Linked DNA regions of Homo sapiens. The protein of the gene in region 4 purifies or fractionates together with the protein of the main gene of each other region. This does not show direct contact. Each region holds a gene or a part of one and is shown on either strand. Other genes may lie near its edges.

The links. Proteins that work in one complex are often made in the same cells at the same time.
Region 1: the proteins of P2RY10 (region 4) and POTEF purify together in Homo sapiens (affinity purification with mass spectrometry; one large-scale study listed by BioGRID and IntAct). This does not show direct contact.
Region 2: the proteins of P2RY10 (region 4) and OPA1 purify together in Homo sapiens (affinity purification with mass spectrometry; one large-scale study listed by BioGRID and IntAct). This does not show direct contact.
Region 3: the proteins of P2RY10 (region 4) and TUBGCP2 purify together in Homo sapiens (affinity purification with mass spectrometry; one large-scale study listed by BioGRID and IntAct). This does not show direct contact.

Annotation. Positions count from the first base shown.
Region 1 is NC_000002.12:130,073,035-130,077,222, reverse strand, and holds the end of POTEF (POTE ankyrin domain family member F), read left to right. Parts: intron 1-21; coding exon 22-142; intron 143-1,650; coding exon 1,651-2,979; 3' UTR 2,980-3,688; downstream 3,689-4,188.
Region 2 is NC_000003.12:193,599,708-193,603,207, reverse strand, and holds part of OPA1 (dynamin-like GTPase OPA1, mitochondrial), read right to left. Parts: intron 1-3,500. UniProt on the Homo sapiens protein: Dynamin-related GTPase that is essential for normal mitochondrial morphology by mediating fusion of the mitochondrial inner membranes, regulating cristae morphology and maintaining respiratory chain function.
Region 3 is NC_000010.11:133,284,873-133,288,372, reverse strand, and holds part of TUBGCP2 (gamma-tubulin complex component 2), read left to right. Parts: intron 1-63; coding exon 64-244; intron 245-2,744; coding exon 2,745-2,917; intron 2,918-3,159; coding exon 3,160-3,288; intron 3,289-3,500. UniProt on the Homo sapiens protein: Component of the gamma-tubulin ring complex (gTuRC) which mediates microtubule nucleation.
Region 4 is NC_000023.11:78,951,891-78,955,390, reverse strand, and holds part of P2RY10 (putative P2Y purinoceptor 10), read right to left. Parts: intron 3,199-3,500; 5' UTR 3,056-3,198; intron 1-3,055. UniProt on the Homo sapiens protein: Putative receptor for purines coupled to G-proteins.

The DNA of each region.
Region 1 (4,188 bases), on a different chromosome or scaffold from region 4:
GAAAATTAAAATTTCTTCTAGTGACGAACAAAATGATACTCAGAAGCAATTTTGTGAAGAACAGAACACTGGAATATTACACGATGAGATTCTGATTCATGAAGAAAAGCAGATAGAAGTGGTTGAAAAAATGAATTCTGAGGTATTTTCTTTAGTTATTTTCAAATGTTTTTATATGTGTGTATATTTTAAAGAACTGTATTTTGGAAATATAAAGGATTTTTAAGTCATATATATGTGTGTATATATTCTATATATCCTTTGTCATATATCTATATACGTACGTATAGGATAAAGCCATGTTCTTAATTCACCTTCATTTGCCTGCAACAGTTGAGTAGTGACCTGCACAATGGCCTCAATCCAAAGGAGAAGTATTTGATATTTTTCATAAGAATTGATGATCTTTCCACATCAGAAATAAGTTTTGCTACTGAAAACAGATTTTCTCGTTTTTGGACATTAGTTTTTTAAAAAATGTTAATAGAGAAGTCAATTGATTATTTTTACTGATAAGAAAGTAGGAAATGTATAGCTGGGTCAGAGGCCACATTGTGGATACCATTATCCTTACTTTTGCAGAGAGGAACAGTTTGCTCCAAGTAGTTTCTCATTTCAATGTAAAGAGGTTTGAAAAGAATGACATGCCATGATACACATTTAGTAATAATTTATTGATAAGTATTTTCTTTCTGGAGAAATAGTTCAGTATATTTCCCCTATTTCACCATTACTACTGTTTCAAACATTATAAAGAGGAAATAAAAGTTACCGCAATGGCAAATAATCTCATGATTTCTAAGAAAATCTCTATAAGTTGTATCTTATTTACCATTCATATTTTGAAACAAAAGGTTTCTTTTGTATTTATATATTTACACCACAGAAGTAAGTGTGGTTTTGTGGAGGATCACTAGAAGTAGCATCAGCAGACCTGGGGAAAATCCTGCATCTGTGTATATTTTTTGACCTCTCCTTTTAAGAATCGCGATCTTAAATGAGTTCAGTATTATATGTAGAAGAGCAATGCCTAGATACAGATGTGTACAGTGTAGAAGGGTACAGTGCTTATTTGACAGTTATAAATAAATGTAATTCTTATAACTGAGTATAGAAATATTAGAAATGTAGAATATCGGTAAAACGTTCTTAAGTAAAAGAAACTTAAAGAACTTTGAGAAATTGCTTCTGTCCAAATATATGCATAGCTAAGGCTCTTAGGATGGTGTGGTTGATAGGTTAGATATCAGAGTGTAAACCTAATCTTAAAAATGTAGTCAAATTATTAATCTTATATTTTATGCCTCTGGGTTTTTTGTAACTCAGAAAAAAGGCTTTTTTTAATTCTGGGATTCTTAAAAATCCTCTAGTGATTTATTTTTCATCGTCTTTAAATAAATATTTAAACTTTTAGGAATTTAGGAGCAGATTCCTAAAAGTTTAAATATTTATTTAAAGACGATGAAAAATAAATCACTGGAGGAATTTACACTCTTATTAGGTTTGAAGTTTTGTCCAATTTTTTTCCAGTTAAATATCCACTATGGGGATTCTTTCATTATACAAATACATGTTATTTTTGAATTTCAGAAGAAATCATGATATGTCAATCTATTGAGTGCTAACTAAAAGTTCTCTTTGTTTACTTAGCTTTCTCTTAGTTGTAAGAAAGAAAAAGACATCTTGCATGAAAATAGTACGTTGCGGGAAGAAATTGCCATGCTAAGACTGGAGCTAGACACAATGAAACATCAGAGCCAGCTAAGAGAAAAGAAATATTTGGAGGATATTGAAAGTGTGAAAAAAAGGAATGATAATCTTTTAAAGGCTCTACAATTGAATGAGCTCACCATGGATGATGATACCGCTGTGCTCGTCATTGACAACGGCTCTGGCATGTGCAAGGCCGGCTTTGCGGGCGACGATGCCCCCCGGGCTGTCTTCCCTTCCATCGTGGGGCGCCCCAGGCAGCAGGGCATGATGGGGGGCATGCATCAGAAAGAGTCCTATGTGGGCAAGGAGGCCCAGAGCAAAAGAGGCATCCTGACCCTGAAGTACCCCATGGAACACGGCATCATCACCAACTGGGATGACATGGAGAAGATCTGGCACCACACCTTCTACAACGAGCTGCGTGTGGCTCCCGAGGAGCACCCCGTCCTGCTGACCGAGGCCACCCTGAACCCTAAGGCCAACCGCGAGAAGATGACCCAGATCATGTTTGAGACCTTCAACACCCCAGCCATGTACGTGGCCATCCAGGCTGTGCTGTCCCTGTACACCTCTGGCCGTACTACTGGCATCGTGATGGACTCTGGTGACGGGGTCACCCACACTGTGCCCATCTATGAGGGGAATGCCCTCCCCCATGCCACCCTGCGCCTAGACCTGGCTGGGCGGGAACTGCCTGACTACCTCATGAAGATCCTCACCGAGCATGGCTATAGGTTCACCACCATGGCCGAGCGGGAAATCGTGCGTGACATCAAAGAGAAGCTGTGCTATGTTGCCCTGGACTTCGAGCAGGAGATGGCCACGGTGGCCTCCAGCTCCTCCCTAGAGAAGAGCTACGAGCTGCCCGATGGCCAGGTCATCACCATCGGCAACGAGCGGTTCCGCTGCCCCGAGGCGCTCTTCCAGCCTTGCTTCCTGGGCATGGAATCCTGTGGCATCCATGAAACTACCTTCAACTCCATCATGAAGTCTGATGTGGACATCCGCAAAGACCTGTACACCAACACAGTGCTGTCTGGCGGCACCACCATGTACCCTGGCATGGCCCACAGAATGCAGAAGGAGATCGCTGCCCTGGCGCCTAGCATGATGAAGATCAGGATCATTGCTCCTCCCAAGCGCAAGTACTCCGTGTGGGTCGGTGGCTCCATCCTGGCCTCGCTGTCCACCTTCCAGCAGATGTGGATCAGCAAGCAGGAGTATGATGAGTCAGGCCCCTCCATTGTCCACCGCAAATGCTTGTAGGTGGACTCTGACTTAGTTGCGTTACACCCTTTCTTGACAAAACCAAACTTCTCAGAAAACAACATGAGATTGGCATGGCTTTATTTGTTTTCTTGTTTCATTTTTTGTTTTGTTTTTTATTGGCTTGACTCAGGATTTAAAAACCGGAATGGTGAAGGTGACAGCAGTCGGTTGGAGGAAGCTTCCTCCAAAGTTCTACAATGTGGCCAAGGACTTTGATTGTACCTTGTTCTTCTTTTCAATAGTCATTCCAAATATTGTGAGACGCATTGTTTCAGGAAGCCCCTTGCCCTGCTAAAAGCCACCCCACTTCTCTCTAAGGAGAATGGCCCAGTCCTCTCCCTAGTTCACACAGGGGAGGTGATAGCATTGCTTTTGTGCAAATTACATAATGCAAAATTTTTTGAATCTTCGCCTTAATACTTTTTAATTTTGTTTTATTTTGAATGATCAGCCTTCGTGGCCCCCCTCTTTTGTACCCCAACTTGGGGTGTATGAAGGCTTTTGGTCTCCCTGAGAGTGGCTGGAGGCAGCCAGGGCTTACCTGTACTCTGACTTGAGGAGAGTTGGATAAAAGTGCACACCTTAAAACAAATTGAGGAAGCACAGTATTTCAGTACAGTGGACAGCTTAGCATGTTGACAACTGAGAATAAAATGCTCAGTTCTGAACTGGACAATGTAAGACACAACGAGGAAACACTGGAAATGGAAATTCAATTACGTCATTGTAGACTGGCTGCTGCTCTACATGATTGTGACCAAAGTCAGATAGCTGAAAGAGACTTCTTTCCAGAGAACAAGACATGAACAGGTTTATTTACAGAAGACAATGAATTCTCATTTATCTCACCTAAAAGAGAACAGATTCTTTCTCAACAAGTCTAATGAAGACAGTAAAATCAACAGGCTAAAAATTAAGCTCCACGAAACAAGATAAAACTCTGAGAGAAAAGACGGGGCAGGCCGCCATCTTTCCCGTTCAGGCAACGTAGTCATTCCAGCCTGCGGGCTTTGGAGAGTACAAACCGACGAGGGACAGAAGAGATCCCACAGCACAGCATAGCTGCTTTACCAAATCATGGCCAGACTGCTTCTGTAAGCAGGCCCCTGATCCTGTTCCACCTCACTGGACAGGACCTCCCAACTGGGGCCTCCAGCTACCCCCACCAGCATTCCTTGGCCAATGGAAATGTGAAATGTTCCTGGG
Region 2 (3,500 bases), on a different chromosome or scaffold from region 4:
TCCTTCCTGAATCTTTGAAGCTTCCATTATTGAAAGCTCTCCACAGCTCATCATGGAACAGACAAAGTGATCCAAATTATGAAAAAATACTGGTGGGGTGACTATTCTGACATTACTAAAATGGCTTATAATCAATGTTTGACTTGTCAAACTCATAATCCCAGAAAAACTAGAGGCAGTATATTTCCACCACCTGATGGACCATTTGAACATTTACAGATGGACTTCATTCAGTTACCACCCTCAATGGGGTATCAGTATGTTCTTGTAATAGTTTGCATGTTTTCTGGTTGGATAAAGGCCTTCCCATGTAGGAAAGCTGATGCTGTGACCATAGCTAAGAAATTATTAGAAAATGTTTTTCCTTTATGGGGGATCCCTCTAAAAGTCTCCAGTGATAGAGGAACTCATTTTACTGAGCAAGTTATAAAGCAGTTAAATAAGGTGTTACTGACACAGTTGCATTACCATTGTCCTTATTACCCTCAGTCTTCAGGAAAGCTTGAAAGAACAAATGGCATTTGAAAACTGAAACTGTCCAAGTTAACTGAATCAATTGAGTTGCCTTGGCCAAAGGTACTACCTTTTGGTTTTAATGGCAATCAGATTCAATCCTGTTGGAAAACATAAATTGACCCCTTATGAAATAGTCACTGGGAGGCCCATGTCCCTAATAATAGCATCTCATGCTTCTCCTGCTCTCTTAAACTCTGATATGACTAAATACTGCAAGGCTTTAATGTATTACGCCAAAGTATACTTCCACCAGGTAAAGGAAGCATTTCAAGATCCACCAACTGAGGACAATCAAACCCTCCATGGTCTGGAATTTGGAGACTGGGCCTTCCGGAAATGACATCAGAAGAAGATCACTCTTGAACCTCGTTGGATGGGACCATACCAAGTCCTTCTTACCACCCACAGTGCAGAGAAGCTTCAGGGCTTTGAACCATGGGTCCACATCTCACAATTCAAAAGGGCCCCCTCAGACTCCTGGTACTATATACCCGTTGGAGACTTTAAGGTAAAGCTGACCAGGGAAATCTCTTCCCAGAAGCAGACAGCATCCTGGTTACAGACAGCTTTCCCTAGATCACAGATCAAGACTTCTCTACCACCATGAAAGCCTTATGTGTTTTTCTGTTTTCCTTATTTTTTTCCCTAATCCTTTCCTTTTCCTTACATGAAAATCCATGGGACCATAATCAGTGGATGGCTTCAGCTCAAGCTTATGCTCTAGCACAAAACCAGGGTAACTGTTGGGTTTGTGGGCTAATGCCAAAAAATCAGGAAATGATTCCAAGGGTGCCAGTGCCCCTCCACGTTTCCCAATGAGTCACCCTGAAACCCCAAGGGAAGAATGGAAAGCTATTCTTGATACTCTAAACATCACTAGTACTTGCTTTCCTACACTCACTAAAAACAACACTCTTTTTCAACTGATAAAGTCGATCACACCAAATATAAAAAACAAATCCAAATGATGCCTACAAAACGTATATTGTGCTTGCAGGCATCACATACTCAAGATTTGGGAATTACTTATGTTAGTACAAGTGATTGCTTGTATATCCAGTAGGGTCTCTTTTTACTAGATGTGGTTATACACCCTTACAACACACTACAAAGGGGCCATAGAAAAGTAAATTTCCCACTGGATGTTATTCAGGAGCTACAGATTCATGGTCGAACAAACCTGAATGATCCCTGCTCAAATACAACTAGGTGGCCCCCTTTTCCAACCCCTGAGGGTCTCTATTGGGTCTGTGGAGAATCTGCATATTCTGTTCTGCCTCCTTGGTTGGTTTGGTTCTTGTTATCTGGCCTGGCCTGCTCCTGCCTTTCGAATTGCTTCCCCTGAAAATTCTCATGATAGCCCTTATACTTGGAGGCCAAAATGATCAATAACTGAAATTAGCACTAGCCTCGAAATAGACGAGGATAAGCTAGTTTCTACCGGGGAAAGATTCCACTGGGGTTCCTGGGGGCTCACTCTTGGTGGTAGTGAAGTACCATTTGTACGGAATTTAAAACTAATTTGTATATTGGGAAAATTCTTGGATTTGGTAGCCAATCAGACCTCCCAGGGTTTCAGATGGGTAGAAGCTACTCTCAGAAAGGCACATGACAACATACATATTCAACGAAAACACTTAATGGAAGATCATGCAGTCTTAGATCTTCTTTTTGCTCAAGCTGGAGGCCTATGTTTGGTGTTAAACAAAACTGAATTTTGTACTAATCCCTCCCCTGATTCTGTTACTACAAAAAGCTTAATTTAAAAGGTGGCTGATACTGCTGTTTCCTTAGACACTGCCACCAAGTACAATAAAGAAATCTCTCAAGAGAAAGGAACCCACGATATGTTTATAGGAGCAACTAACAGTTGGTTTGCAGGCATCCTAAGTGGTGAATGGCAAGCTTGGGTTTTCCAAGGGTTTCTAATCTTTATATCTCTTCTAGCAGGTTTTCAAGTTATTATGACTTGTATTAACAAGGTAACAATGAAAACGAGCACCTCTTTAAGTCAAGCTACTTTACAGCGAACTATGATCCTTAATCACTATCATACTCCAACTGAAGACTCTGACCAATCAGACCCCAATACTGCTGAACTGCTTATATTGTCTGAACCTTAACTTGGCTGATTTGGTTCAGTTCATTTCATAAGAACTTTTATTAAGGAGTACACCTTAGCATTTTGACGGTGTCCTCTTAACAGTCATAATAATAGTCCCCTTGGTGCACTGTATACTCTCAAGTCTTAAATGTTTTGTATGCAGCTGTACATTGACAGTTGAATGGTCTTACTCCAACTGGATCAGCAAGAACATAAAGAATCATTTAGCTGGTACAAAGTTGCAACTTGTGAATTCCCTATTAACACCAAAGAAGATGTGTGAGACTCCATACTGAAACTAAAGACGACTTGTGAGTTCCACACTGAGACCAAATAAGTCTTTATGATGGTGACAGAGAGTGGTGTCAACGCCTAAAGTTTTGGTCAATCTCTCTAAATTGAGGGGCTGACCAAAAGGGGGAATTGTTAAAGCGAACTAAATATGGCCCGAAGAGGACTCCGTACTTTTATATTTGAGTCCTTGTGGACGAACTGTAACCTAGCTCAAATAGGCAGACAAAATCGAAAACCTAACTTAGTAGTATGCATCTGTAATAACAGCTGAGTGTTGGCCAATCCCAGCGGCCATACTTCAACCACTCATAGACTGCTGAGTGTTCAAACTGCGTTCAAATAAGGCAAACGCCGAGCTGTAACCAATCTCACTGTTTCTATGTCTCAATTCTGATTCCTGTAGGTCACTTTACCTTTTCTGTCTATAAATTTGTTCTGACCACGAGGCACCCCTGGAGTCTCTCTGAATCTGCGGTGATTCTGGAGACTGCCCAATTTGTGGATCATTTTTTTTCTTTGCTCAATTAAACTCCATCAAATTTAACTTGTCTGAAGTTTTCTTTTAATTCTATGTTTTGCCCAAGGT
Region 3 (3,500 bases), on a different chromosome or scaffold from region 4:
TGCTCCCTGGCTGTGGCGGGCACCTGCGGGTGGGCACCTGCTCACGCCTGCTCCCTGGCGCAGGTCCATCAAGCGCTACTTCCTCATGGACCAGGGCGACTTCTTCGTGCACTTCATGGACCTCGCGGAGGAGGAGCTCCGGAAGCCGGTGGAGGACATCACGCCCCCTCGCCTGGAAGCGCTCCTGGAGCTGGCGCTGCGCATGAGCACGGCCAACACTGACCCCTTCAAGGACGACCTCAAGGTGGGTGGGGGTGCCGGGGGCTGTCCCCTGTGGCAGAGGCCTCGGAGGGGCTGGGAGGAGAGCACAGCAGAGGCCAGCCCTGTCCCCCACTCCCCGTCCCGGTGAGGCGACCGCAGGGTCTGTTTCCTTCACTTGGCTACCGGGGCCGGCTTGCCGGGATCGGGGGTCTTTGTGCCTGTGCTCTGGAGGGGCGCGGGTCTCGGGTTTTCCTGCAGTGCCCTCGTCCGGGCCTGGCTTTCAGGTCATGCTGGCCTTGTGGAATTGTTTTCACGTGTCCCTCCATCTGTCTTTTGAAAGGGTTTCAGGTCTTTTGAAAGGGTTTCAGGAGTGGTGTTAATTCTTTTTGTTTTTGCCTTTTTGTTGTCGTTGTTTTTTGTTTTTTTTTTTGAGACGGAGTTTTGCTCTTGTCACCCAGGCTGGAGTGCAGTGGCATGATCTCAGCTCACTGCAGCCTCCACCTCCTGGGTTCAAGTGATGCTCTACCTCAGCCTCCCGAGTAGCTGGGATTACAGGTGCGCGCCACCACGCCCAGCTAATTTTTGTATTTTTAGTAGAGATGGGGTTTCACCATGTTTCCCAGGCTGGTCTTGAACTCTTGACCTCAGGTGATCCACCCACCTTGGCCTCCCAAAGTGCTGGGATTACAGGCATGAGCCACCGTGCCCAGCCGTTTTTTAAAATATATATATGTTTTATCTGTTTTTTACTATTTTTAATAGAGACGGGGGTCTGTGTTGCCCAGGCTGGTTGAACCCCTGGGCTCAAGCGATCCTTCACCTGCGCCTCCCCAGGAGGGTGTTGATTCTTTGGCTGTTTGGCAGGGTTTGCCTGGGAGCTCTTGGGCCCTGGGTTTGTCTTTGTTGGAGACTTTTGAGGGGGACTTGGCCCCTTGCTGGCCACAGGTCTGCTCAGTCCCTTTCCTCTTGGTCGGCTGTCTGTCTCGCATCTTGTCTGGTGCACAGTTCATGGGTTTCTAGTATCTGCTTTTTATTTCTGTAAGATTAGTAGTTATATCCCTTCTTTTTCTGATTTTAGTAATTTGAATCTTCTTTCGTCTTAGCTGATGTAGCTAGAAATTTGTCGATTTCATTATCTTTTCAAAGAACCAACTCTTGGGTTTGTTGACTGTATTTTTCTGTTTTCTCTCTTCTGTCATCTTTGTTACTCCTGTCTGCTGCTTAGGGGTTCAGTGTGGTCTTCTTTTTTCTAGTTTCTTAATTTGAAAAGTTAGTTTACAGCTGTAAACATCCCTCCGAGTGCAGCCTTCGCTGATCCCCTAGCGTCATAATTTCTGTTTGTCTGGAGGTGTTTCTGATTCCCTCTGATTTCTTGTTGGAGCCGTGGGTGGTTTATGTTTAACTTCCACATGTTTGTGAAGTTTCTGGTTTTCCTTCTGTTGCTTGTTTCTAACTTTATCTCCTTGTTAGAGAACAGACTTTTTGTGATTTCAGTTTTGTGAAATGTATTGATTTGTGTAGTGGCCCCACATCCATCCTGGAGAGTGTTCCGTGCGCGCGGGAGGAGGATGTGCCCTCGGTTCCGTGCGCGCGGGAGGAGGACGCGCCCTCGGTGCTGTTGGGGTGGTGTTCTGCAGGTGGGTTGAGGCCGTGTCTTTCCTCACTGATCGTCTGTCCGGCGGTTCTCTCCGTGGTTAGAAGTAGGGCACCGAGTCTCCCTGTCACTGAAGAACTGCTTTTCTCCTTGTCATTCTGTCTATTCTTGATTCAGATATTTTGGGGTCTCTTGTTAGGAGCAGGAATATTTTCGTAGGAAAAATTCCTGGTAGTGAAATTGTTGGGTCACAATACATGGCCCTTGTATGACTAGGCTGACCTTGCTGGAGTTGATGGAGTCCAGTCTCAGGACGCTGCTGTCTGCACACCTGCGAAAGCTCCCACCTTGGCTATTTGATGGACAAGTGATGTCAGGGGCTCATTTCTGCGTTTGTGATGGTCACGATTTCGTCTGTCCGCTGCTTGTTTCTTCTTGCTTTATCCCCTGCCCTTCATTTCCTGTCCTGTCGTTGTGCGATGGTTTTGTAGGAACTCTGTTGCGGGTGGTTGGAACTTAGCAAATACTCGAGTGATTAACGTGAGGACAGTATTACTTGCTTATAATAACTATTATGTCCCTCGTCAAATATGCTTCATTTTTCAACCTGGGCCTGGTGCTTATCATGGTACAAAGGTTTTCGTCCTAAGGAATCACGTTTCTTTCACCGTCCTTAGCGGTTTTTCCCTTATACCACCCACAGCAGCAGTGGGTATTTACAAAGTAATTCATCTGAATTTTTGTTGTTTTGTTCTGATGGGAAGTGGTTCAGTTTTGAATTTGATTTATCAGTAGATGTTTGGGTTTTTGAAAAGCCTCTGATATTTAGAATCGGAATGTAGGGAACCTTACGTCAGCGCTGGGTCTGTGAGCGAGGATGGCGATCGGGATGCGACTTCGGGTCTTTTCCTTAAAACTGGATGCTTTGTTTCATTTCCTTCCCTCCAAGATCGACCTGATGCCCCATGACCTCATCACTCAGCTCTTGCGCGTCCTGGCCATCGAGACCAAGCAGGAGAAGGCGATGGCGCACGCCGACCCCACGGAGCTGGCGCTGAGCGGCCTGGAGGCCTTCTCTTTCGACTACATCGTCAAGTGGCCCCTTTCGCTCATCATCAACAGGTGCGGGTCGGCTGCTCGGGCACCTGCCAGATCTTCACTCAGGTTTGGCAGAAGCGAGAACTGTGCCACGCGGTGGCCACCTCGTCCCACAGAGGACCCAAGGCGGCTCTCCCCGGCCTTCAGTGTCCGAGAGATTCACGGGCTGTCCGGGGGCCACGGTGCGGACTGTGGAGTACAGACGCCGTGTCCACGACGCCGCCGGTCACGGAGGCCCACCTGAGGTGCCGCCACGTCTCTTGCAGGAAAGCCCTCACTCGCTACCAGATGCTCTTCAGGCACATGTTCTACTGCAAGCACGTGGAGCGGCAGCTCTGCAGCGTCTGGATCAGCAACAAAACCGCCAAGCAGCACTCGCTGCACTCCGCCCAGTGGTGCGTTCTTCCTCTGCCCCCGCATGCCCTCCTGAAGCAGCGCTCGCTGCACTCTGCCCAGTGGTGCAGCGCCCCCCTTGTGCCCTCCTGGTAGACAGCTTTCTAGGCTTCTGGAAGTGTCATCTGGAAGCGCACGTTGGTGGCTTTAGATCCATAATGCTTCATTGCTTCATTTTCCTGTCTTGGGGCTGCACGGCGCTGCCGTCCACCCC
Region 4 (3,500 bases):
TTCATTCTGAAGGCTCATGTGTATATACTTTAAATAAATTGTAATTCCTTATCTCATGTTAATCAATCTGCCTCATGCCAGTGATTTTGTAGCAACCTTGAGAGGGCCAAGAGCCTATGGTCCCCATAGGGGTAACATTTAAAAATCTCTAACATCACAATCAGTGAATAGCAACAATTGAAGTGAATGGCACAGGTGATGAGAATCCCTCAGTGTTGGCACAGCATCATTCCTGTGAATTAATTAGGAGAGATACCAGTACTATTTTAGCTGCTAAAGATAACATATAGGATTTAAATAGAACAATGGATACTTTAGGAAATGTGAGGTAAACTTTAACTTTATCTCTTACCTCATCACCATCTTTATTTTTCTCTCCACCCCGTCCCCGTTTTCTGCCGCTGATGGAGAGAAAAATAAAGAGGGTGGCTGGGGAAGAGATAAACTTAAAGTTAACCTCACTTTGTCTGAATTATCGATTGTTCTCTTTAAATCCTAGTGACCTTTCAAAGGTGAGGTCAAGTTGATCTCTTCAAAAATTCTCCATAAGCATGACCGTTTTTACTGGTTATTATTAGTATAATTCATCTGAATCTTAACAGTTTGTGATTTCATCCAAGTAGACATTCTGCTATGTGGGTGTCCTATATGCTAATTGCAAAGGATGATGGAGTGGAATGGGAAATTCCAGAGAAAAATAATCCATGGTTGTTGCCTTCAATAAGTTTACAGTCACATGTGATAGCCATAAGTAACTAACCATAACGGATTTCAGAAACATTTCATGAAAGAGGTAACAAAGACATTTCTGTGGAAGCAGAAATAAAGCCTGCATAGAATGGAAAGATTGGAAGTCAATTTTTTAATAAGCAGTTTTGGGAATGGGCAGGATTTTGGAGAAGAAAAGATCGGAAAGGTTTCCAGGGATGGATAAATAACATCCAAGGTTTCCAAAGTATAAAAATGAATGATATATCTAAAGGAAAAATAATAATTCTATCCCACCTGGTGAATAGGATAACATGGTGGGGAGGGTGAAATGGGAGGTATGATTGAAGGAAGGTAGTGAAAGGGAAAAGAGACTATAAAGGTAGAAGTTACCGGGTCATGAAAGATTTTTAATGAAATATTTTTAATGCACTTCATGATGAATCATCAAAGGATTCTGTGAAGAGATGCGATATCATCATACTTGTGTTTTAGAAAGATCAGGCTGCTGGCCAGGTGTGGTGGCTCACACCTGTAAACCCAGCACATTGGGATGCCCAGGTGGGTGGATCGCTTGAGCTCAAGAGTTTAAGACCAGCCTCGGTAACATGGTGAAACCTCATCTCTACAAAAAAATATAAAACAAAAAAATTAGCTGGGTGCGGTGGCACGCCTATGTGGTCCCAGCCACTCAGGAGGCTGAGGTGGGAGGATCGCTTGAGCCGGGGAGACAGATGTTGCAGTGAGTTGAGATTGCACCACTACACTCCAGCCTGGGTGATAGAGCAAGACCCCATCTCAAAAATAAATAATACTTTAAAAATGAATACATAAAAAATAGAAAGGTCACGCTGGCAACCATGTGGAAGATGAATTGAAGAAATGGGACACAGGGAATCCAAATCACTTTGGGAGTATGTAGGAAGACCAACAGTTGAGGTTTGCCTGTGACTGAGGGTTTTTTGGGACATAGTATTTTCAGTGCTAAACCTGTGACAGTCCAAAGCAAAGGGAATAGTTGGTCACCCTATTAGATTAGAATTTAAAGTAAAAGTCAGATATGGAATTGAGCAATTTTGAAGACTGCTTGAGGAGTCAAAGATGATTTCATTTATAAAACATGAAATGATATAAAAAAGGTATCGCAGTTTTGCACTTTTCCAAAGCAACTTCATATGCAGCAACTAACAGCATTCACTTCTGCTGATAATCTGAATCCATTAACCTATTTCTTATTCCAGTATTTTTCAATTTTGTACTATCTGCCAACCCTCATCAATTCCTAACTCTTCAAATGGTTTTCTTTCTCTAACATAATGACTGAGCTTCACTACAAATTGCACTATACTAACTTGCACCATACATTTCCAGAAACCTTCAATATCTAAATGCTTCCATTTCTCCTAGTCTCACATAGCATCCTCCCTCATCTTATTTCCTCCTGTGTCTAACCCAGATTAAATAGTTGGCCAAATTATCCACTCTTACACAAGAATACACAACTTCTTTGTTCTCCATTCTCCTGCTACACCAGCCTGGCAAGGCCCTAATCGCAGGTTAAGTCCACAACAGGTTTTCTTTCTTACTATCCAAATGGCTCAATTATCCTGTTGAAATACTAGTGTGTATTTGAAATGGCACAAATGGAAATTAATGATCTCCAGTCTAAAATTATTTTCCTCTACCCTCTTTTTGCATGAACCTGATTAGTATCTTCTCCTATTCCCATGGTGGCTAATCAGCCCCTTTTCTATTCTGCTAAAGCTTCTTCCTCTCTCTCCTGCTCCCCATCCACCACTTTTCTCGGAAGACTATTTGTTTTAGCCCTCAGCTCAAAGAGTAAATTGAGATTATTAGGTGAGAAGAAATCAACTTCATCTATTGTCCTTTTCTAACACGCATAATTTTATTTATAGCAGCACTCTTCTTACTTCCCAACACAGCTGTCCTTCCTGCTGCTCAAGATGAATTATCACACTCTTCTAACCTCCCTCAGGATTCTCTTTCATTGATTGTTCCCTTTCACTCCTAGAAAATCATGGTTTTCTACACTCTCAGCTAGAGCTTTTTCATCAAGTCTCTCCAACTCCCAAAGTAATTTTCTTGTCTACGCACCTTATTCTAGCTCTTTGTTGCCTTCCTGCCCTTCTCTCCATAGTTGTTTACACCAGTTTTTTTCTTTTCCTCACTTTATATCCATTCTTTAATGCACTTCAAGGTGGCATACATGTCCCCACAACCTCACTTCAGTCAGTACTTCTGTGGCTTTGAATTACCCAGAAAGAGGTGAGAATAGAATTCCCAGTGCCTCCAATGCCAGCCTTACAGAAGTAATTACTCTTGGTACCTCTAGTTTGAAGTGCTCTGTCCAGGGTACATGCTTCCTATTCCAAAGGTCAGGACCATTAAAAGAGATGCCTTTTCACTTGAAAGAAGGGTATGTTGGTGAGTGCCAAATCCTGAAGGGAATGACCAGCATAGAGTTTTAACCTAATAAGAAAAGCAGAAAAATCAGCCACCATCTCTGAAATAACAGGATTCACTTACAAAGTGTGTCTCTAAATACTATACAGCCATAAAAAGAATGAGATCATTTCCTTTGCAGGGACATGGATGGAGTTGGAAGCCATTATCCTTAGCAATCTAATGCAGGAATGGAAAACCAAACACCACATGTTCTCACTTATAAGTGGGAGCTGAATGATGGGAACACATGGACACATGGTGAGAAACAAGAAACATTGGAGTCTGTTGGGAGCTGTTGGGTGAGAGAGAGCATCAGGAAGAATAGC